Linked DNA regions of Homo sapiens. The protein of the gene in region 6 purifies or fractionates together with the protein of the main gene of each other region. This does not show direct contact. Each region holds a gene or a part of one and is shown on either strand. Other genes may lie near its edges. The genes, in order: DNASE2B, PARN, CELA3A, WDR7, SERPINA4, UGGT2 and HELLS.

Evidence for each region.
Region 1: the proteins of UGGT2 (region 6) and DNASE2B purify together in Homo sapiens (co-immunoprecipitation; one large-scale study listed by IntAct). This does not show direct contact.
Region 2: the proteins of UGGT2 (region 6) and PARN purify together in Homo sapiens (affinity purification with mass spectrometry; one large-scale study listed by BioGRID and IntAct). This does not show direct contact.
Region 3: the proteins of UGGT2 (region 6) and CELA3A purify together in Homo sapiens (co-immunoprecipitation; one large-scale study listed by IntAct). This does not show direct contact.
Region 4: the proteins of UGGT2 (region 6) and WDR7 purify together in Homo sapiens (affinity purification with mass spectrometry; one large-scale study listed by BioGRID and IntAct). This does not show direct contact.
Region 5: the proteins of UGGT2 (region 6) and SERPINA4 purify together in Homo sapiens (co-immunoprecipitation; one large-scale study listed by IntAct). This does not show direct contact.
Region 7: the proteins of UGGT2 (region 6) and HELLS purify together in Homo sapiens (affinity purification with mass spectrometry; one large-scale study listed by BioGRID and IntAct). This does not show direct contact.

Annotation. Positions count from the first base shown.
Region 1 is NC_000001.11:84,408,484-84,411,983, reverse strand, and holds part of DNASE2B (deoxyribonuclease-2-beta isoform 1 precursor), read right to left. Parts: coding exon 3,466-3,500; intron 1,147-3,465; coding exon 985-1,146; exon of another isoform or gene 974-984; intron 1-973. UniProt on the Homo sapiens protein: Hydrolyzes DNA under acidic conditions. Does not require divalent cations for activity. Participates in the degradation of nuclear DNA during lens cell differentiation.
Region 2 is NC_000016.10:14,609,761-14,613,260, forward strand, and holds part of PARN (poly(A)-specific ribonuclease PARN), read right to left. Parts: intron 1,050-3,500; coding exon 884-1,049; intron 1-883. UniProt on the Homo sapiens protein: 3'-exoribonuclease that has a preference for poly(A) tails of mRNAs, thereby efficiently degrading poly(A) tails.
Region 3 is NC_000001.11:22,004,657-22,008,156, reverse strand, and holds part of CELA3A (chymotrypsin-like elastase family member 3A preproprotein), read right to left. Parts: intron 2,711-3,500; coding exon 2,613-2,710; intron 2,496-2,612; coding exon 2,361-2,495; intron 1,280-2,360; coding exon 1,143-1,279; intron 785-1,142; coding exon 642-784; intron 1-641. UniProt on the Homo sapiens protein: Efficient protease with alanine specificity but only little elastolytic activity.
Region 4 is NC_000018.10:56,692,859-56,696,358, reverse strand, and holds part of WDR7 (WD repeat-containing protein 7), read right to left. Parts: intron 1,741-3,500; coding exon 1,599-1,740; intron 1,410-1,598; coding exon 1,161-1,409; intron 118-1,160; coding exon 1-117.
Region 5 is NC_000014.9:94,564,442-94,567,423, forward strand, and holds part of SERPINA4 (kallistatin isoform 2 precursor), read left to right. Parts: intron 1-2,528; coding exon 2,529-2,802; intron 2,803-2,982. UniProt on the Homo sapiens protein: Inhibits human amidolytic and kininogenase activities of tissue kallikrein.
Region 6 is NC_000013.11:96,046,902-96,050,401, forward strand, and holds part of UGGT2 (UDP-glucose:glycoprotein glucosyltransferase 2 precursor), read right to left. Parts: intron 1-3,500. UniProt on the Homo sapiens protein: Recognizes glycoproteins with minor folding defects. Reglucosylates single N-glycans near the misfolded part of the protein, thus providing quality control for protein folding in the endoplasmic reticulum.
Region 7 is NC_000010.11:94,597,788-94,600,193, reverse strand, and holds part of HELLS (lymphoid-specific helicase), read right to left. Parts: intron 1-2,406. UniProt on the Homo sapiens protein: Plays an essential role in normal development and survival. Involved in regulation of the expansion or survival of lymphoid cells. Required for de novo or maintenance DNA methylation. May control silencing of the imprinted CDKN1C gene through DNA methylation.

The DNA.
Region 1 (3,500 bases), on a different chromosome or scaffold from region 6:
CCCAGGTAATTTGGCCTTGGAGACCATATATTTTTTCTTCTAAATGTACATATACATATACAAAAGTTGAGAACTCCATGTACCAAAAAGCTTTAAGAATCATCATCTCCTCAGTGTGCATGCCTAATCTCTGTGATATTCGGCATCATTACATGATTTCAACTAGTGAGACTAGAGCTTGACTTGGGTGAGGAGCTCAGTGATCCTTGCCATAAGATGGAAATTTGATGAGAAACATTTTCTAAATCTCCTGTTTCTATAGGCAAGTTGCTTTTCACTACTATTTAGCTACCAACCTGTCCCTACTTCTCCTTTCCCACCACAGTTTGCCAAATCTAAGAATTTTTCGCTGAGCTTGAAATCTTAAAAGGAGATTATCTGGCTCAGAGGTGTCATGTTTGTGGCCTACAAGGAACATGTGGCCTGGAAAACTTCAAAAACAAAATTAAGATTGAACTCATATTTGGAAATCAGTTTCTCTCTCTCTCTCTCTCTCTCTGACACACACACACACACACACACACACACACACACACACACACACACACACACACACACCCTAGGTTTCTGGTACTTCATGAGAAATAAGGAGATCTGTAATCATTAGGCTTGTATTCCTGTAGAGCCACAGTATGATGGAACTGAGGCTTTAAGGGAAGCTAGGTGAGTCAACACCCCAGTTCATCACTATCCTCACTTCCCATGTAACATGTCTGTTTCACTCATATATGTTATCTACCAGGCCCCTGAATACATTTGAAACTACTGCCCTGATCAAGTTCAACAACTGCACTGGTAGATTAAGAGCCAAAGCCCAGTAAGCGAGCCTGCCCAAGACCTCACCATGGCAAAGCCAGTATTAGAATCTAGGTATCAGAGGGTCTATGAATAGATTAACAAATGAAGTGACACATTTATGAATATATTTCCAAATCATTTCTTCAACATAGTTATCGTTTTTTTTCTCACATACTTTAGTTTTACCTATTGCCTCATACTGGTTGTACTTGAAAGTTATGCAGATGCCACTTTGTCCATTTCGTCTCCCTGTGGGTGGATAATCATAGCCTTCTTCCGGAATTGGAGGAAACTGAGGGATGGAATGAATCAGCCAGAACCCTTGAACTCTGTTCCACAGCAGTAAACCTACCAAAGACACATTTAACAAAGATAAATCAGAAAAACAAAGCTTCTTTTATAATAGGGTTCACAGTGGCAACATTTAAGCCCATTTATGCTTCAGACTAGTGTTTTATTAGGCTAATAATCACAAGGATCATGCTTATTTTTCAAAGATTTCAAATACAATTCTGGCACATATCACATTGCCTGATTACTGATAAAAAGCCACCACGAAAAGGGAACCAAGGTAGCCATCCTGTGAAGAGTTAAGAGGAATTTCATTTTGAAATCACAAGGAAAATTTGTTTTGGCAGAATGCAAATTTGCTAAATTGGAATTGGACCTTGTTAAACTATACAGTCACCTAGCAAGATTTAGATAGTGTCTTCACTGCTAAGCAGCTAGGCTCTTTTCAAAAGCTGACTAAAAAACAGAGTTGAAAGAGAAAATATCAAATGAAGAAATGTACTCACAATAATTTGTTATAAAAAACTGCTGCCCATTTATTGGCAGAAGAGTCACTATTTCTACAAGCCCAATAAAAGAAGCAAAGAGACAAAAAGGAAGCTGTGCTAAAGCATCCTAGTTAATTACGTTTGTAAAAATCTCTAGAGCAAAATAAACAACTTGAAAGCCAATAAGGAAGAAAATAGAAAGATTTTTATCATTTTGTGACATACCAAAAAGAACTTTGTAAAACAGACATCTGACTATTTTTGTGTTTAGAAATTTATCATGGTAGGTTTGGTATGATAGCTAGACTTTCCAGTTTGCATATGACTATGCAAACATAAGATTCACTCGTGTTTGCCTAAGTGTTAGATTAAAAACCAAATGCCTTCTAGTTATTTTTTTTTCAAAGTGCCTATTTTAAGAAAGCATACTGTTGTTCTTTGGGTGGAAATAGAATCAATACCTGTGTCAAGGTGGAAAATATTGAAAGTTCTGTGTGTAACAGAACTGGATAACCTTCAAGAGTTATCCTCTGTGCAGATGAGTGTGCCAATTTGCTGGAATCCTATCCTCCTGGTACAAATGCCATAGGATATTAGGGCATCTGTTGGCCAAGAGAACCCCTCCACTTGATATTGTGCCCTACTTCTTTAGAGCCATTTCCCCAAAGCCTTGTGGCAGTTAGCAGGGTAGAGCAGGAATAGTGTGGGAGATTGTTGGAGGAGAGGTTGAAGAATGTAGCATGTTATGAAAATTGTTGGGTTCCCAGTAAATAGGGTATTCAGGAGAGCAACTTTGCTAAATAAAAAGCTTTCAAAGTTCATGACCTTTGTCAGCCATTACAAACTATATTCTAAATCAGAGGCTGCAAACTGACATCCTCTGAGCCAAATCCAGCCTGTGGATACATTTTATTGCGCTTGCAGAGTATTTTTTAAACTTTGAATTTAGTGCCAACATTTAAAAACTGGGGAGTTTTTCCACAAATATTAATTTTCAACATCTCCTGGAAAATTGTGTCCGTATCAGGCAAGTTGAATAGTAACTGCCTCCTTTCACTTGCTGACATCATTTGCCTGCTCCCTTGAAGGCATTTGAATTTGGAATCTTCTGAATACTTGTTGCCATGGAAAGTTATTTATGATATATGAAATTGAAAAAAGGTTGAAAAATAGTCATTACAGTAGTTTTGTAAAAATGTTTTAAAATATGTATTTTAGAAAAAGTAGAAAGGATTAAATATGGTTTATCTAATGGGCATTAGGATTATAGATTTTTTTGTTTACCTGTATTTTGAATTTTTCTGTAGTTCACAAACACATATGCAAAGTTTAGAAATAAAAAAATTGTGAAAGGATAATAAAAATTATATGTGATAATGTAAATAACATGATAAAAATTAATATAAAAAGCTATTTAAAATACTTTTTCAAAAATGTATATTTCCAAGGGAACTGTATGTTAAGAAGAGCTCGTTTTACTCTCTATAAATCATACTTCAATAAATCTGACTAAAATGTGTTTGTACATATATACTACATGCACATATACATATATACATATTCATGTGCATATATATATATATATATATAAAATTGCTGGTGTGTGTGTGTGTCCTCAGTATCAGTACCTGGATTCCTGCTGCTGCAAAGCAAATATTTTAAAATATGTTAAGAAATAAAATGGGATTTCTAAAAATGAGATTGCCAAGTCAAATCATATAATTATATTATAACCAGTGATATAGAAGTCATACATTTCAATAACTCAAATAAACTATTAAGAAGAAAGGCTATCTATTTAGTATGGAATATAAGGATACTCAAGATGAAATATTTAAGAAATTGTTGATTTCCAGTAGGAAAGAGAAACCAAGAATCTTTGTCATACCTTTGGTGTGTCCATACTTTCTGCTGTAATTCACA
Region 2 (3,500 bases), on a different chromosome or scaffold from region 6:
CATCTGCTTGTCGGCACCTTTACTGCAAGCAAAGAGAACATGGACATGCTACAGGCTGGATAAGCCTGATCCACTCCTCTGCCTTCAAGGACATTGGACAGTGGCTGTCAGGTATTCAGTCCATGCAAGTTTTAGAAGTCAGCTGATTAGCATTTAAAAAACAAGAAAAGGGGCTGGACAATGGCTCACGCCTGTAATCCCAGCGCTCTGGGAGGCTGAGGCAGGAAGATCCCTTGAGCTCAGGAGTTTGACACCAGCCTGGGAAACATAGTGAGATCCGTCTCTATTAAAAAAAATAAAATAAAATAAAAAATCCACGCAGGTCTGACCACGTACTGAAATCTCTTGCCTAGTGACATGTAGCAAGTCCAAGTACAATACATGGAACTCTATTTACAATTTGTTGCTGTTACACTAATTTGAATATGCCGGCTAGGCATGCTGGCTCATGCCTGTAATCTCAACACTTTGAGAGGCTGAGGCGGGCAGATCACTTGAGGCCAGGAGTTCGAGACCAGCGTGGCCAACATGGCAAAACCTCGTCTCTACTAAAAATATAAAAATTAGGCGGGTGTGGTGGTGCACGCCTATAATCCCAGCTACTCTGGAGGCTGAGGCACAAGAATTGCTTGAACCTAGGAGGCAGAGGTTGCAGTAAGCCAGGATTGCACCAATGCACTCCAGCCTGGGCAAAAGAGCAAGACTGTCTCAAAAAAAAAAAAAAAAAAATTTTTTTTTTAATATGCCACAATTATATCCTGCCATTCACAACATCACACCCGTGTGTGTACTATGTTTGTAAAGCACAGGTTTGAGATATAGATGCCTGTCATCCCCAATATATAGCACACAATGCACGCTTAGTTTTAATTTAGGAACTTACACCACTTGGTCAATAAACTTCTTTTGATCCTCAGGAATCGTGACAGGACATTTTGAAGTGTTAGGAGATACATAGGACAGAGCTCCTGCACCATTCGCCTGTGAACGTTTTTCATCATACTGCTCTCTTAACTGTCTTTCTTCTTCCTGATTTAAATATGGAATTCCTAAACACGATTTTAAAAAGAATGCATTAGCAGAAGTAACTGTCTAACATAAAATTTGTTTAACAAACCAAAGAGTCTAAATTACTCAGGAAAGATTTACCATATTTAACTACATCTCAAAAAATGAACAGAAAGGCAAATGATTTTGAAATGTGTTTATCATTCATCCATTCATTCAGTCTTCTTTCAAGAAATATTTATCTGGCACTTATGCTGTGCCAAAGCATTATATTAGGCACTGGGGAATGAACAGTGACAAGCTGATGCATCCTGCTCTGTAGTGAAGGGAACTACTTCTGACAAGAAAATCAGGAAAGTCAGGGAAAACCCAAAGGATGAGAATAAGTCGGATACGAAAGGAGCTAGGGGAAGAGTCCTTCGGGTAGGGGAAACAAGTATTAATACCCAGAACATGGAAATGGCTTGGACGGTTCCAGGAGCAGCAAGGAGCTGGTGTGGCCAGATGTCATGAGCAAAAATGGAATGGTACAGCATCACATTGGAGAGAGTATGGAGCAAGATTCTGCAGGCCCTCACAGGCCAGTGTAAGAAATGTACATTATTCTAACAGTGGCTGGACAACATTAGAAGATTTTAAGCAAGATAATTACCTTACCTGCATAATGTTTCAAAGGCCATGATGACTACTCTGAGAGTGAAGTTAGGAAACAAGTCAGGAGCAATTGTCCAGGCAAGAGACAAGAGCTCAGATCAGAGGTCAGCAAACTTTTTCTTTGTTTTGTTTTGTTGTGAGACAGTCTTACTCTGTCACCCAGGCTGGCATGCAATGGCACAATATGAGCTCACTGCAACCTCTGCCTCCCAGGTTCAAGCAATTCTTCTGTCTCAGCCTCCCGAGTAGCTGGAATTACAAGCGTGCACCATCACACCAGGCTAATTTTTGTATTTTCGGTAGAGACAGGGTTTCGCTATGTTGGCCAGGCTGGTTTCGAACTCCAGACCTCACCGCCTGCCTCAGCCTTCCAAAGTGCTGGGATTACAGGCGGGAGCCACGGCCACCGCGCACGGCCAGCAAACTCTTTCTTAAAGGGCTCGATGGCAAATGTTTTAGGCTTGTGGGCAATGGGGGTCTCTGTCGCAATACTCAACCCTGCTGTTGTGGCACAAAAGCAGCCATACACAAAATGTACATGTACGGGCATAGCTGTAGTCCAACAAATCTTATTTACAAAACAAGGAGCCAGCAGTGGGCTCTTGTTTGTAACCCTGGTGTAGAGATGGCAGGGTAGAAGGAGACAGTGATTTTCTAGACATAAGACGTAACACTTACTGATATCCTGGAGATGAAGGATAAAGGGAAAGGCAAAATCAAGAGTAACACCTTGCGGCCGGGCATGGTGGCTCACGCCTATAATCCAACCACTTTGAGAGGCCGAGGCGGGCGGATCACAAGTTCAAAAGATGGAGACCAGCCTGGCCAACATGGTGAAACCCCGTCTCTACTAAAAATACAAAAATTAGCTGGGCATGGTGGTGTGTGCCTGTAGTCCCAGCTACTTGGGAGGCTAAGGCAGGAGAATCACTTGAACACAGGAGGCAGAGGTTACAGTGAGCCGAGATCGTGCCACCGCACTTCAGCCTGGCGACGGTGTGACACTGTCTCAAAAAAAAATAAAAATAAAAATAAAAAAAACACCTTGCTATTTGGTTCAAGCGATTGGGAAGATGGTAGGGCCACTAACTGATGTGAAGACAATGAGGGGAAAAATAGGTATCGGGGTCCAAGGAGTGAAAATCAAAAGCTACCTTTTGGACATACTATTTTTTTTTCTTTTTTTTCTTTTTAGAACGAAGTCTTGCTCTGTCACCCAGGCTGGAGTGCAATGGCACGATCTCGGCTCACTGCAACCGCCACCTCTCGGGTTCAGGCAATTCTCCCGCCTCAGCCTCCCAAGTTGCTGGGATTACAGGCGCCCGCCACCATACCCAGCTAATTTTTGTATTTTAGTAGAGACAAGGTTTCAACATGTTGGCCAGGCTGATCTTGAACTCCTGACCTCAGGTCATCTGCCCATCTCAGCCTCTAAAAGTGCTGAGATTACAGGCGTGAGCCACCGCGCCCTACCACGGACATGTTAAATCATCTAAGGGAATACACAAATTAAAAGCTGCAGTTACAAGCCTATAGCTCAAGAGAAAGGTGTTGAGATATACATTTAGTTATCATTGGGACACGGGTGGTATTAAAATCCATGGGGACGGGGCGCGGTGGCTCACGCCTGTAATCCCAGAACTTTGGGAGGCCAAGGCGGGCAGATCACCTGAGGTCGTGAGTTCAAGACCAGCCTGACCAACATGGAGAAACCCTGTCTCTACTAAAAATACAAAATTAGCCGGGCGTGGTGGCACATGCCTGTAATCCCAGCTACTCTGGAGGCTGAGGCAGGAGAATCGCTTGAACCTGGGAGGCAGAGGTTGCGGTGAGTCAAG
Region 3 (3,500 bases), on a different chromosome or scaffold from region 6:
AAAAGAGACAACGTCTTGCTGTGTCGCCAGGCTTGGGTGCAGTGGCAAAAATCATAGCCACTGTGAGCTTGAACTCCCAGGCTCAAACAATCCTCCCACCTCAGCCTATCAAGTAGTTGGGACTACAGGCGAGTGCCACCATGCCTGACTAAGTAAAAAAAGTTTTTCTGTAGATGGGCATCTCACTATATTACCTAGGCTGGTCTCAAACTCCTAGCCTCAAGCAATCCTCCCACCTCAGCCTCCCAAAGCACTTGGATTATAGGCAGGAGGGACTGTGCCCAGAACAATGATGGTATTCTTAATGGTTAATTATAACTTTAGAACCACAGAATTGACCTGCGTTAGAGGTCATGGGACCAGTATCTCCTGCTGTGCTGATGCGGAAGCCTGAGGACCAGGGAGACACAGTGACTTGTCCCAAGTCATGTCAGTGTGTGAGCTGAGACTGCAACCCGGGGGTCCTGACTCCCAGGCCTGGGCTCTGTGTCTGGACTGCGCTGATTTCCTCCAAGTCCTGCCTGGCCTGGAGGCTGAATGGGGCAAGCAGGCAAGATCCTTCCTCCACCTTCCAGGCAGTTGGCCCCATTCCAAGGTCCTGCACACCCAGCACCACCTCGGGCAGGTAAGAGCTGACTCACGTTGCAGCCGGAGCGGATGTACCCTCCAGCACACACCATGGTTTTCTTCACGGTGGAACCCCACCAGTTCCACCTGGAGCAGTGCTTATAGTCCACCACGGGCAGCCGGGCCTGCTGCAGCTTGTCTGGGAGTGGCCCATTGGCTGCAAGGATAAAAAGCACCGAGTCAGGGGTCTGGGGGCACACCGCTAGGTGCCCCAGAGGAAGGGGGCATTCAAGGCCCACAGTTCTTCTGCCCTGATGAGGACTCTCCTCCCACCCGCTAAATGGTCCTGCATGCTTTGTGCACCATTACATCCCTAGCACGTGGCACACAGAAGATACCAAAACATGTGCAATTGACCACATTCGTGTTTTGGAGGTTGATGGAAGAAGGCTGCAGCTGGAGAGAAATGGGAGAAAAGTACAAGGTCCGGTCTTGGTGTTACCTTCAACCTGCAGCCCCCAGGCCCTGTCTTTCTGCCACTGTCTCTGTGGCCAGCTAGAGAAGTCAGCACGTACTATAGAGACGGCCCCAGCCGGTGATGTAGCAGGGTGTCTTGTTGGGAAGGATGTCACCAGCGGGAGGGAGTGAGGCGAGCTGGACGGCATCTCCCAGCTGGGCGCTGCGTGAGAGCTTGATGAGGGCGATGTCATTGCTGGGGAGGAGGGAACAGTCACGGGGCCTGGTCCTCCAGCCGGCCCAAGTCCTACCTTCTAGCCGTTGCTCCAGGCTATTCCACCTCTGAGATGCCCCAACTTCTTTACCCTCCAAATCCACTCTTTCATCATCATTATTATTATTATTATTATTATTATTGAGACAGAGTCTCGGTCTGTTGCCCAGGCTGGAGTGCAGTGTCACAATCATAGCTCACTGCAGCCTCCTGGGCCAAGGGATCCTCCTGCTTTCACCTCCTGAAGTGCTGGAATTACAGGCATGAGCCACTATACCTGGCCCAAATCGTTCTTAAGGCTGAGGAATTTTATTTATTCATTTATTTATTTTTGAGTCAGAGTCTCGCTCTGTTGCCCAGGCTGGAGTGCAGTGGCATGATCTTGGCTCACTGCAGCCTCCGCCTCCCGAGTTCAAGTGATTCTCCTGCCTCAGCCTTTCCAGTAGCTGGGATTACAGGCTCATGCCACCACGCCTGGCTAATATTTGTTAAGATTTTTTCATACACTTGAAAGGCATAAGATTGTCTCCTTGGCCTTCACACCACCCAGGAAGCCCAACTTCATGGTCACCTTTTGACAAATGGCAAAACTAAGGCCCAGAGAAGGCCAGTGACTTGCTCAGGCCATACACAGAGTTAATGCCAGAGCCTGACTCTCAGCCCAGTGCTCCTCCTTTTGCCCATAGTGCTGGGAGCCCAGGATGCACTGGGTGAGCCATCTATTGAATGGAGAAACCCTCGGATATGGGGGAAGGATGCCAGAGGAACCCTGAGCTCTGAAGCCACTAGCCAAGTGGCCTTGGCAGAGTTCCTGCCCCTCCCTGAACACTGCCATCCCCTCTGTAGGGAGACAGGTTTGGTGGTGATGGTCCTTAAAGGCTCTGCTGGCTTCAATCCTCAGTGTGTGGGACCTGGGCACAGGCTGCTGGACTCAGCTCCCCTGTCCCTATGTCCCTATGTCCCTACGTCCCTACTCAGAGTTGGAGCCTACTCAGACTTGGCTGTGGGTCATGGAGGGACAAGTAGAGGAGCCCCTGGGTTCCAGACCGGAGCATTCACTCACCCACAGGCCACACACGAGCGGTTCCAGAGTGGATGCACAAACAGCTCCTCAGAGTTGATGGGGATCACCTGCTCGGGGCCCTCCTTCACAGCAAGGTTGTACTCACCCAACACCACCTGGTAGGTCAGATCCCTCCTGCAGGCAGAGGTGAGGTCAGTCGGGGCCTGACTGGCTCACCTCCCTCCTTCCCCATCATCACCCACTCTCCCCCGCTGCCCAGGGCCACAGGCAGGGACAGGGTAGAGAACTCACGAGATGCAGTGGCCGGCAGTCACAACCCAATCGGGGGCGATGAGGCTACCGCCACACGTGTGGTAGAAGCTTCCACTTTTCTCATACTGCAGGGAAACCTGGTGGCCCAGGAGGAAAGGGCCTCAGTGGGCTGGGCCCCACCATGAGAGTTGCCACCAATGGCTGTATAGGTTGTGCACTGTGCAACTCTAGAGGGCGCCATTCACATGGAAAACGAGAGCACCCACTGAAATATGCAGCATACAACCTGCGACCTGGGCAGCTGCCCGTGGTGGCCCTATCACTTTTCCATGGGGGTCACATTCTGATTCTCCAAAGCCTCCCCACACCAGCACTATGACCTCCCTGGGGACCCCAACATTCTCTACCTTCTGTCTCTTAACAGCCCTTGAAGGCCCTCTGTTCTATCACGCACCCCTCGCCCTGTGAGTTTTTTTTTTTTTTGAGATGGAGTTTTGCTCTTGTTCCCCAGGCTGGAGTGCAATGGTGGCAATCTCAGCTCATTTCAACCTCCGCCTCCCGGGTTCAAGCGATTCTCCTGTCTCAGCCTCCACAGTAACCGGGATTACAGGCACCTGCCGTCGTGCCTGGCTAATTTTGTATTTTTAGTAGACACGGAGTTTCACCATGTTGGCCAGGCTGGTCTCGAGCTCCTCACCTCAGGTGATCTGCCCACCTCGGCCTCCCGAAGTGCTGGGATTACAGGCGTGAGCCACCGCGCCCAGCCCCCCTGACTCTTTTGAACCTCAGCTCTTTCAAGGCCTCTTGAGCCTTCTGAAGCACAGCTCACCCTGATGAGTTCTTTGCCTCTCTTCCCATTTCCTACACATTCTGATTTTCAAAAGCTCCATCTAGACCAGGGTTAGCAAACTGTGGACAGTGGGGCAC
Region 4 (3,500 bases), on a different chromosome or scaffold from region 6:
AATCCACACCTCCAGATATCAGGTATCTTTGATCATACCGAGCTGAGACCTGATGAGGATATAGCAAACATGTGACTTTGTTCCGATGACCACGGAGTGTTCTGTGAGGTGGCCAACCTGTGAATGAGGGTTTGGATTTAAAATGGGAAAATTAAAGGTTTACCAAGTTTCAGTAAGTAAAAGTAAACATGAATGTTTAGAATAGCTACAAATTATATCACAGCAAAGGCTTCCAATTTTATCTTCTAACACAACTCTGCCTAATTCAGTATCTACTAGCCACATGAGACTACTGAGCACTTGAAATGGGGGTAATCCAGATTCCTATGTGCTGTGAATTTAAACTAGTCATGAGATTTTGAAGAGTTGATACAAAAAACCTAAAATATTTCATCAACAATCTTCATATTGATTAGAAGTTGAAATGAAAATAGTTTTTGCTATATTGGGTTATATAAAATATAGTCAATTTCAACTGTTTCATTTTATTTTTTAACACAGCTATTAGGAAATTACAGGTATGGTTATATATATATGGTTGACATTCGATTTCCACTGGCTGTTGAGAGGCCGAGGCAGGCAGATCACTTGAGGTCAGGAGTTCGAGACCAGCCTGGCCAACATGGTGAAACTGTCCCTACAAAAAATACAAAAATTAGCTGGGTGTGGTGGCACATGCCTATAATCCCAGCTACTTGGGGGGCTGTGCAGGAGAACTGCTTGAACTCAGGAGGCAGAGATTGTAGTGAGCCGAGATCATGCCACTGCACTCTAGTCTGAGCAACACAGTGAGACTCTTTCTCGGAAAAAAAAAAAAAAAAGATTTCTATTGGATGGTACTGTTCTGGAGGATTTTCAGAATTACTGGTAATACAGTAATTATTTAGTAATCCATAGAGATAACTAAGAGATGAAACTATTAACATATCTCAAAGAGATAAAATTGGATACTTCTTTATTTACAGTCATTACATTGTATTAATTCTAATAACAGGCACTGAATATTTTATCTGTGCATTAAACTCTACCAACTACATAGCACCCCAACAACTAACTACACTGATTCACTGTATTTATTTAAAAACAAAAAACAGAGACATTTTCACTCTCTGGGTAAGAGTTGTCAAAACACTTTAGACATACGGAGCTCTTCAGTATACCTCTTCTGAGCATGTGTTCCCCTTGCAACAGCTGTACTATGGCCGTCTGTGTGGCAGGTACAATAACTATGCTTCCATCTTCACGACCACAAACAAGTCGTCCATGTGCTGGTATGTACACACTTGCAGTTACTTTAAGAGGTTCATTACTATTGGGAATCACACTCAGCTGATCTATAATTCCAGCAGGACAAGGATTCAGTTTATCAAATGCCTCTTGCAAACTAATAGAAGTTGTCATTGCCAGCCCTGTAGAGGTTTGGTTTTGTATAAAAGAAAAACATTTGTGCATGTTAAAAAAAATTTAAAACATTAAAATAATGTTGATTGATCCAGTAATCAAAGAAAATGATATATGTACATTATGAATGTTATTCAGTAGTTGGTATTTAAGATATTAAATTAATTAAGAAATTGTTACACATGATTTACTATTACCTTCTTCACTTCCCTGTTTATCAGCTGTGTCTGATATGTTCCAAATATTCAACCTTCCAGAAGAATCACCCTGAATTAACAGTTTATGGAAATATTCTCTGCATCCATAGAAGAACCGAGTAACAGGAGGACAAATTAGCAACTGCCAAAAAAAGTATTTGAATATCTTTAGCTGTATTTTTAATCAAAATATTTCACACATTAATGCTTTTCAAACAAAGATATTAGGTAATTTGTCCCAGTAGCCAAGTTGAAAAAGTGTTTATAGCATGATTATTCAACAATATTTTAATGTAATTCTATAGCACTAACATACATGTCAACTAATATTCTAATCTAGTATAACACACACATTGAATGAAACAAAAACTGTATTTACAGCCTTTCTCTAAAGTTAGCATTTATGCTACTTTTCACCACTTTATAATAACTCATGTGTAGCCACAATAATGCAATTTAACTGCCTATTATTAAATAATTAACACATAGCTAAGCTTTATCAAAAAGAAAAGTCTTCACTTAAAAGGTCAAGATGAGAGAACTCACTATTCCTGCTTTTTTTGCCCACTCCTGATTAATCATTAAGAATAGCAACAAAATTAGGGAACAGTGGCTCATGCTTGTAATCCCAACAATGACACGGAAGATCGCTTGAGGCCAGGAGTCAGAGACCGGCCCTGGACAACTAAGCGAAATCCTGTCTCTACAGGAAAAAAAAAAAAACTTAGCCCAGCATGGTGGCACAGGCTCATAGCTCCAGGTATTCAGGAGGCTGTGGTGGGAGCATCACTTGAGTCCAGGAGTTTGAAGCTACAGTGAACTATCATTTCGCTACTGCACTCCAGCCTGGATGACACAGCAAGACCTTGCCTCAAAAAAACAAAAAGTAGGCTGGCCACAGTGGCTCATGCCTGTAATGCCAGCACTTTGGGAGGCTGCAGCGGGCAGATCACTTGAGGCCAAAAGTTCAAGACCAGCCTGGCCAACATGGTGAAACCCTGTCTCTAATAAAAATACAAAAATTAGCCAGGTGTGGTGGTGCGTGCCTGTAATCCCAGCTACTCGGGAGGCTGAGGCAGGAGAATCGCTTGAACCCAGGAAGCAAAGGTTGCAGTGAGCCGAGATCACACCACTGCACTCCAGCCTGGGAGTCAAAGGGCGACTCCATCTCAAAAAAAAAAAAAAAACAAAAAAAAAAACCAACAAAATTGAACTATCAAGCTTGTGCAACTAGAGGACCCCATTGTTAAAATTAGTATATTTTTCAACTAATAGCATATCATGTTTTACTTGCTCATATTTTCATAATCAATTTGAACCTAGCCTCTGTTAGCTACCAGCTACCAGGAACAAAAACCATTCATTAGGATCTTATGTGTACTTTCATTTTCAGCTCAAGATTTTGTGCCTTCAATGAAGTACTATCTGAAAATACTAAATAGTGTGGTGGACTTCTACTAAAATTCGGAGGATTACTTCACAAATACTGGAATATTAAAGAACAGAATCTTAGCCTGAAAAGCAATATTAAATTTGACTTCAGTTTTGACAATTATAGTTAATAGTCTAATTACTGTATTCAAATACTGGTTAATCAAATACAGTAATTAACAGCTAAAAGCATTAGCCAATGGAAACTACACATATTAAGCATAACCAATCGTTTGACTTTACTTACTGAATTTTTTTTGCTTTTGAGACAGGGTCTCGCCATGTTGCCCAGGCTGGAGTGCAGTGGCACGATCACAGCTCACTGCAGCCTCCACCTCCCAGCTCAAAGGATCTTCCCACTTCAGCCTCCCAAGTAGCTGGGACTACAGGCGTGTACCACCACACCATGCTAATTTTTTTTTTTGTAGAGATGGGGTCTCACTATGTCGCCCAGACTAAAATTTTTAATTG
Region 5 (2,982 bases), on a different chromosome or scaffold from region 6:
ACAGGTCAGCTTGTTTGCTCAAAGCAGGGATAAGACAAGTCTCTAATTCAAAGGTTGGCTTTGAGGATCAAATGATTAACCCATGTATATACTCCTTAGAAAAGGGTCTAAAGAGATGGGCAAACTACAGCCCATGGGCCAAATGTGTTCAGCCACTGGTTTTGTAAATAAAGTTTTATTGGCACACAGCCAGGCCCATTCATTTATGTATTGTCTGTGGCTGACTTCATGCTACAATGGCAGGTTGATTCATTACTGCAGAGATTGAATGATCTGCAATGCCTAAAATAGTTAATATCTCTATAAACCTTTTGGTTTGTTGACCCCTGACCATTTTATGTACTCAATAAATAGCAACTATAATTCATCTAATGATAACAATGCTCATTTTGAAGCTTTAAAAATATGTAAAAGCATAAAGGAGAAAGTAGACATAATCTCTAGTCCTACCACTCAGAGGCAACAAATGTTAATGTTTTAGCATCTTTTCTTCACCTTCCATTCACACACATATATGTCCACACAGTTGATTTTGCAGTGTGCAAACAACTTTGTACGGTGTGTATTAGCCAGGGTTTCATCAGAGAAGGAGAGCCACCTCAAGTCAATGGTAAGGAGATCATTATAGGAATTAGGCCCCACACAATTGCGACTGGGAAAGTGAAGGTCTAGAGGAAAGAAGAGTTGGAAGGACAGAGAGAAAGTTGCCAATGTAAGCGGACAAGTCAGAGCTTAGAGGGGAATCTATATGCCAGGCTCAACCAGCCATCAGAGTGCTGCCATGGAGGGGAGCATCACTGCATAGTTTCTGTGGTAGCCTGGGGCTGCTGTTGTTTAGTGGGGTTAGACTTGGGAAATGAGCTTGGAGACAAGCAGGGCAAACTGGAGCACACAGAGCACTGCTGAGTCTGACCATCATCATATCTGACTACCAGGGCCTTCAGAGGGCAATCTACTTCGAAATCTCACAGTTCTAACCAGCTTGAACCCAAAATCTACAGGGAACAAAATTCTAGGGAGCAACTCCCAGCCTAATGATTCAGCCAAATTAGTCATCCCATGTAATTTGCATGTGGAATTTTCATGAACCATTGAAAAGTTTTTTTAAAAAAGCTTTGTTTTGAGGCTGGGCATAGTGGCTCACACCTGTAATTCCAGCACTTTGGGAGGCCAAGGCAGGTGGATATTGAAATCAGAAGTTCAAGACCAGCCCGGCCAACATGGCAAAACCCTGTCTCTACTAAAAATACAAAAAAAAAAAAAAAAATTAGCCAGGCTTCATGGCACATGCCTGTAATCCCAGCCACTTGGGAGGCTGAGGCAGGAGAATCGCTTGAACCCAGGAAGTGGAGGTTGCTGAGATTTTGCCACCACACTCTGGTCTGGGTGACAGAATGAGACTCTATCTCCAAAAAAAAGTTTTGCTTTGAAATAACAAAACTTTTAAACTTTAAAAAAAAAATTAACTAAGGAAGGAAGAGAAACAGTAGTATGGGTTTCACTGTCAGGAAGACATTGGTTAGAATCCCAGATCCCTTGCTATTCCCTGGACTAAAATTCCTGGCATGGAGGCCTTAGTCCATTCACCCTACCTGCCACCACCTCACTGCACATCGCCTCCTGTATTTGCTTCCCTCCTCACACTGCAGCGATTCCATGGCCATCATTGTGGTCACTTCCTTGCAAACACTCTGAACTCTTAACTTCCTTGGTTTTCCCTCCCTCTATCATACTTACCCTCCAAAGCTGCAAACCTGCTTAAACCTAAAGGTCTAACTAGTCTACATCTGCACCCAGCAGCTGAATGTGGTTGAAGAAAAACATCCAACGGGGCTGATGGTCTCACTTGATATTTGTGAATGCAAATTTTCATTGATATCTCTACACTGTCCAGCAATCCTACCTACATATCTCCACTCTCCAAAACAACTATAATAACAGATTCGTCCTTCTCAAATGTCCTCCCCACTCATGACTTTCACTTAACAATCTTGTCTCACTTTTCATTGAGAAAACAGAATCAGTTAAACAGGAAATCTCTCATCTTCTCACCTCCAAATCTACTCACCTCCAAATCTTCTCACCTCCAAATCTACTCGCCTCCCTGCATTTGAACCCACAAGCTCAGATGCCCTCCTCTCATCATGGCAGTAGTGACCCACCTCTTATGGAAGGCTGACCCCTCTGCTCACACTCTGCCATCTCCTCTCTCCTTCTCAAGGATGCTCACCTAACAATGAAACTCTCTTTCCAGCACCCCTTGTTTCTTCTCTATCAATCCTACTCACATATTAGAAAACGAACATCCTCTGCTATCTCTCATTTTAAAATTTAAATGAGGCCTAAAGGATCCATTCCCCAGGCATGTCAGGTTTTGAATGGTCAAAATGGGACATCTTGATGGGCTCATAGGGCAGGATCTGGAGCGACTGTTTCTGTAGCTCAGAACACCAGATGGCATTCCCTGGCTGGAGGACTAGCTCTGTGGCCTGCAGATGTCCTGTACCTTCTTTTCATCTTCCCTTCAGCCCTGTGGGAGAAACCATTCATTTCCTCAAGGACCACTCCCAAAGACTTCTATGTTGATGAGAACACAACAGTCCGGGTGCCCATGATGCTGCAGGACCAGGAGCATCACTGGTATCTTCATGACAGATACTTGCCCTGCTCGGTGCTACGGATGGATTACAAAGGAGACGCAACCGTGTTTTTCATTCTCCCTAACCAAGGCAAAATGAGGGAGATTGAAGAGGTTCTGACTCCAGAGATGCTAATGAGGTGGAACAACTTGTTGCGGAAGAGGTAATCAGTGTGCTATGGGGGCTGAATCTACAGTACTATCCATCAAATGTAACTTTCTAATGAAAGACAGTGCCCCAAAATAGAGAGTGAACACCAAATTATGAGAGAATTCTCACTTGCTCTGAGAACTTCCATGGGCTTCCTTTAAATGATGAACTCTCCTGTTATATTTAAAATATG
Region 6 (3,500 bases):
GCAGCAGTGAGGCTGGGGGAGGGGCACCCGCCATTGCTGAGGTTTGAGTAGGTAAACAAAGCAGTCTGGAAGCTTGAACTGGGTGGAGCCCACCACAGCTCCAGGAGGCCTGCCTGCCTCTGTAGACTCCACCTCTGGGGGTCAGGGCATAACTGAACAAAAGGCAGCAGAAACTTCTGCACACTTATATGTCCCTGTCTGACAGCTTTGAAGAGAGTGGTGCTTCTCCCAGCACGGAGTTTGAGATCTGAGAACAGACAGACTGCCTCCTCAAGTGGATCCCTGAACCCCAAGTAGCCTAATGGGGAGGCACTTCCCAGTAGGGGCCGACTGACACCTCATACAGCCGGGTGCCCCTCTGAGACGAAGCTTCCAGAGGAACAATAAGACAGCAACATTTGCCGTTCTGCAATATTTGCTGTTCTGCAGCCTCTGCTGTAGATACCCAGGCAAACAGGGTCTGGAGTGGACCTCCAGCAAACTCCAACAGACCTGCAGCTGAGGGTCCTGACTGTTAGAAGTAAAACTAACAAACAGAAAGGACATCCACACCAAAATCCCATCTGTACGTCACCATCATCAAAGACCAAAGGTAGATAAAACCACAAAGATGGGGAGAAACCAGAGCAGAAAAGCTGCAAATTCTAAAAATCAGAGTGCCTCTTCTCCTCCAAAGGAACGCAGCTCCTTGCTATGTGAGAGAGACACACATAGGCTCAAAATAAAGGGATGGAGGAAGATCTACCAAGCAAATGGGAAACAAAAAAAAGCAGGGGTTGCAATCCTAGTCTCTGATAAAACAGACTTTAAACCAACAAAGATCAGAAGAGACAAAGAAGGCCATTACATAATGGTAAAGGGATTAATTCAACAAGAAGAGCTAACTATCCTAAATACATATGCACCCAATACAGGAGCAACTAGATTCATAAAGCAAGTCCTTAGAGACCTAGAAAGAGATTTAGACTCCCACACAATAATAATGGGAGACTTTAACACCCCACTGTCAACATTAGACAGATCAACGAGACAGAAAGTTAACAAGGATATCCAGGAATTGAACTCAGCTCTGCACCAAGCAGACCTAATAGACATCTACAGAACTCTCCACCCCAAATCAACAGAATATACGTTCTTCTCAGCACCACACCGCACTTATTCCAAAATTGACCACATAGTTGCAAGTAAAGGACTCCTCAGCAAATGTAAAAGAAGAGAAATTATAACATACTGTCTCTCAGACAACAGCAATCAAACTAGAACTCAAGATTAAGAAATTCACTCATAACCACTCAACTACATGAAAACTGAACAACCTGCTCCTGAATGACTACTGGGTACATAACAAAATGAAGGCAGAAATAAAGCTGTTCTTTGAAACCAATAAGAACAAAGACACAACATACCAGAATCTCTGGGACACATTTAAAGCAGTGTGTAGAGGGAAATTTATAGCACTAAATGTCCACAAGAGAAAGCAGGAAAGATCTAAAATTGACACCCTAACATCAAATTAAAAGAACTAGAGAAGCAGGAGCAACCACATTCAAAAGCTAGCAGAAGGCAAGAAATAACTAAGATCAGAGCAAAACTGAAGGAGATAGAGACACAAGAAAACCATTCAAAAAAATATCAATGAATTCAGGAGCTGGTTTTTTGAAAAGATCAACAAAATTGATAGACCGCTAGCAAGACTAATAAAGAAGAAAAGAGAAGAATCAAATAGATGCAATAAAAAATGATAAAGGGGATATCACTACCAATCCCACAGAAATCCAAACTACCATCAGAGAATACTATAAACACCTCTACGCAAATAAACTAGAAAATCTAGAAGAAATGGATAAATTCCTGTACACATACACCCTCCCAAGACTAAACCAGGAAGAAGTTGAATCCCTGAATACACCAATAACAGGCTCTGAAATTGAGGCAATAATAGCCTACCAAACAAAAAAAGTCCAGGACCAGACAGATTCACAGCCAAATTGTACCAAAGGTACAAAGAGGAGCTGGTACCATTCTTTCTTAAACTATTCCAATTGATACAAAAAAAGGGAATCCTCCCTAACTCATTTTATAAGGCCAGCATCATCCTGATACCAAAGCCTGGCAGAGACACAACAAAAAAAGAGAATTTTAGACCAATATCCCTGATGAACATCAATGCAAAAACCTCAATAAAATACTGGCAAACCAAATCCAGCAGCATCTCAAAAAGCTTATCCACCATGATCAAGTGGGCTTCATCCCTGGGATGCAAGGCTGTTTCAACATATGCAAATCAATAAACATAATTCATCATATAAACAGAACCAAAGACAAAAACCACATGATTATCTTAATAGATGCAGAAAAGGCCTTTGACAAAATTCAACAGCCCTTCATGCTAAAAACTCTCAAATTAGGTATTGATGGGACATATCTCAAAATAATAAGAGCTATTTATGACAAATCTGCAGCCAATATCATACTGAATGGGCAAAATCTGGAAGCATTCCCTTTGAAAACTGGCACAAGACAAGGATGCCCTCTCTCACCACTCCTATTCAACACAGTGTTGGAAGTTCTGGCCAGGGCAATCAGGCAGGAGAAAGAAATAAAGGGTATTCAATTAGGAAAAGAGGAAGTCAAATTGTCCCTGTTGGCAGATGATATGATTGTATATTTAGAAAACCCCATCATCTCAGCCCAAAATCTCCTTAAGCTGATAAGCAACTTCAGCAAAGTCTCAGGATACAAAATCAATGTACAAAAATCACAAGCATTGCTCTATGCCAATAACAGACAAACAGAGGGCCAAATCATGAGTGAACTCCCATTCACAATTGCTTCAAAGAGAATAAAATACCTAGGAATCCAACTTACAAGGGATGTGAAGGACCTCTTCAAAGAGAACTACAAACCACTGCTCAAAAAAATAAAAGAGGACACAAACAAATGGAAGAATATTCCATGCTCATGGATAGGAAGAATCAGTATCGTGAAAACGGCCATACTGCCCAAGGTAATTTATAGATTCAATGCCATCCCCATCAAGCTACCAATGACTTTCTTCACAAAATTGGAAAAAACTACTTTAAAGTTCATATGGATACAAAAGAGAGCTCGCATTGCCAAGACAATCCTAAGCAAAAAGAACAAAGCTGGAGGCATCACGCTACCTGACTTCAAACTATACTATAAGGCTACAGTAACCAAAACACCATGGTACTGGTGCCAAAATAGAGATATAGACCAATGGAACAGAGCAGAGCCCTCAGAAATAATACCACACATCTACAACCATCTGATCTTTGACAAATCTGACAAAAACAAGAAATGGGGAAAGGATTCCCTATTTAATAAATGGTGCTGGAAAAACTGGCTAGCCATATGTAGAAAGCTGAAACTGGATCCCTTCCTTACACCTTATACAAAAATTAATTCAAGATGGACTAAAGACTTAAATGTTAGATCTAAAACCATAAAAACTCTAGAAGAAAACCTAGGCAATACCA
Region 7 (2,406 bases), on a different chromosome or scaffold from region 6:
TCAGCCTTCTGAGTAGCTGGGATTATAGGCACATGCCTCCATGCCCCGCTAATTTTTTCTATTTTAGTAGAGACAGGGTTTCACCGTGTTGCCCAGGCTGGTCTCTAACTCCTGAGCTCAGGCAATCCACCTGCCTCAGCCTCCCAAAGTGATAGGATTATAGGCATGAGCCACCACACCCAGCCATCATTCTGGGATTTTAATTAGAAGAAAAATTCAAGAATATAAGTTAGTTTTGGGGACCACTGACTTACACTTTGTAGTAACCATTCATATCCACAAATACAGCTAAATCTGCATGTTTACTCAGTCTTTCTATTAACGTCCTTCAATGTTTCATAATTCTGTCCTTATATAAACATGTTAAAAATTGTTAAACTTTAATTGTAGGCATGTTAATTTTGTAGCTGTTGTAAAAACCTTCATTATTAAACAATTATTGCTGTTACACATATTATTAATAAGCAATCTTCTTAAATTCTATTTTAAAAGATTCTGGATTCCCTTGGACTTCCTATGAAGATAATCAAACCAGACCACTTGCAAATAAAAGCAGTTTCGATAATGCCAGCACTTTAGGAGGATGAGGCAGACAGATCACTTGAGCCCAGGAGTGTGAGACCAGCTTGAGCAACATGGCAAACCCCTGTCTCTACAAAATACACAAAACAAAATTAGCAGGACATAGTAATCACACCTGCAGTCCCAGCAACTTGGGAGGCTGAGGTGTGGGGATTGATTGAGCCCAGCAGGTTAAAGCTGCAGTGAGCCATGATCACACCACTGAACTCCAGCCTCGGTGACAGAACGAGACTTTGTCTCAAATAAAAAAAAATTATGAAGATGATTACGATATTATGGCAAGTTGGTTTTTGGTATCTAATTAGGTGATCATCTAGTTCTCCATTATTTAATTGATATGAATTATATTATCAGATGTTAAACAGTCCTTACATGCCTCACATAATGTTGTTTTTTAATATAGTTTAGATTTGACCATGATGCTGTATGTCTCATATTTCTCCCTAAACTATTTCAAAGTTAAAACTCAAATAAACATGCAAATAATCCAGAATATCTAAAACAATTTTGAAAAAGAACAAAACTAGAGAAAGTACACTTCCCATAAAGCTACCTTAATTAAATCAGTGCGATACTGGCATAGGAATACCACAGAGATCAATGGGACAGAATTGAGAATACAGAAATAAATCCTTATATTTATGATCAAATTATTTGCATCAAGGATGACAAGGCCATCCAATAGAAAAAGGATCATCTTTTTAACAAATTAATATTGACATGCAAAAAGATGAAAATTCATTGAAAATAGATCATAGATCTAAATGTAAGAGCAAAAACTATAAAACTATTAAAAGAAAATATCAACACCTTGAATTAGGCAAAGAGTAGTTACAGATGACATAAAAATCATGAGTGAACAGAAAAAAATTTGTTAAAATTGAAATTCATTAAAATTTAAAACTTTTGCTCTTCAGAAGATACTAAGTAAGTAAGTGAAGAGACAGGCCAGAGTAGAAGAAAATGTTTGGAAAATACATCTGATTAAAAAAAAAAAAAAAAAAACTTCCAACCAATATATTTTATTTTGATTCAATAAGACACAGAATTGAATTTTAAAATGAACAACATATTTGAAAATAAGATATCATGACACTGTAGCCAGTGCCACGCAGGTAAATGTTTAACAATTGGGTCTCAAAAAAAACAAAAACTGAGGCACAATGGCTCATGCCTATAATCCCAGCTTACTCCAAAGGCTGAGGCTGGAGGATCCCTTGAGCCCAGGACTTTTAGGCTGCAATGAGCTATAGTCGCACTCCTGCATTCTAGCCAGGAATACAAAGCAAGACCCTTTTTTGTTAAAAACAAAGACTGGGGTTTCTAGTTTCTGCCTGTATCCGTGATATGAATGTTACTGCCATCACCAATTTCAAAAGACCAAAATGTCACGGAATACAGTTGGGAAAAAAAGATTATACAGTATCTCCACCATACAGATGCAACAGACAAATAATCAATAGCCTAGACGACAGTAATATGTTGTAAAATAATTAGGAAATTATGAAGTACAAAATATTATTTTTGTTTTCAAAATAATTCATGGTCATCACTGTAGGCATCAGATCATAAGGTGGTATTCTAAAAACTGATAAAAAAAAAAAAAAGAAGCAATATATCCTGGCTCTCTTCTATCTCAGGGAAACTGTAAGGGAAAGTTCTTAAATAACCCAGCTAATAAAAGAATGACAGAACAAGAAAAATCACCATTTTGCAATGATTAAGTTAATAATGGTTCTTATCAGCCACTTTCAAGGGATACTAAAAATCACCACGTTAGGCTTGGTGCAGTGGCTCATGCCTGTAATCCCAGTGCTTTGGGAG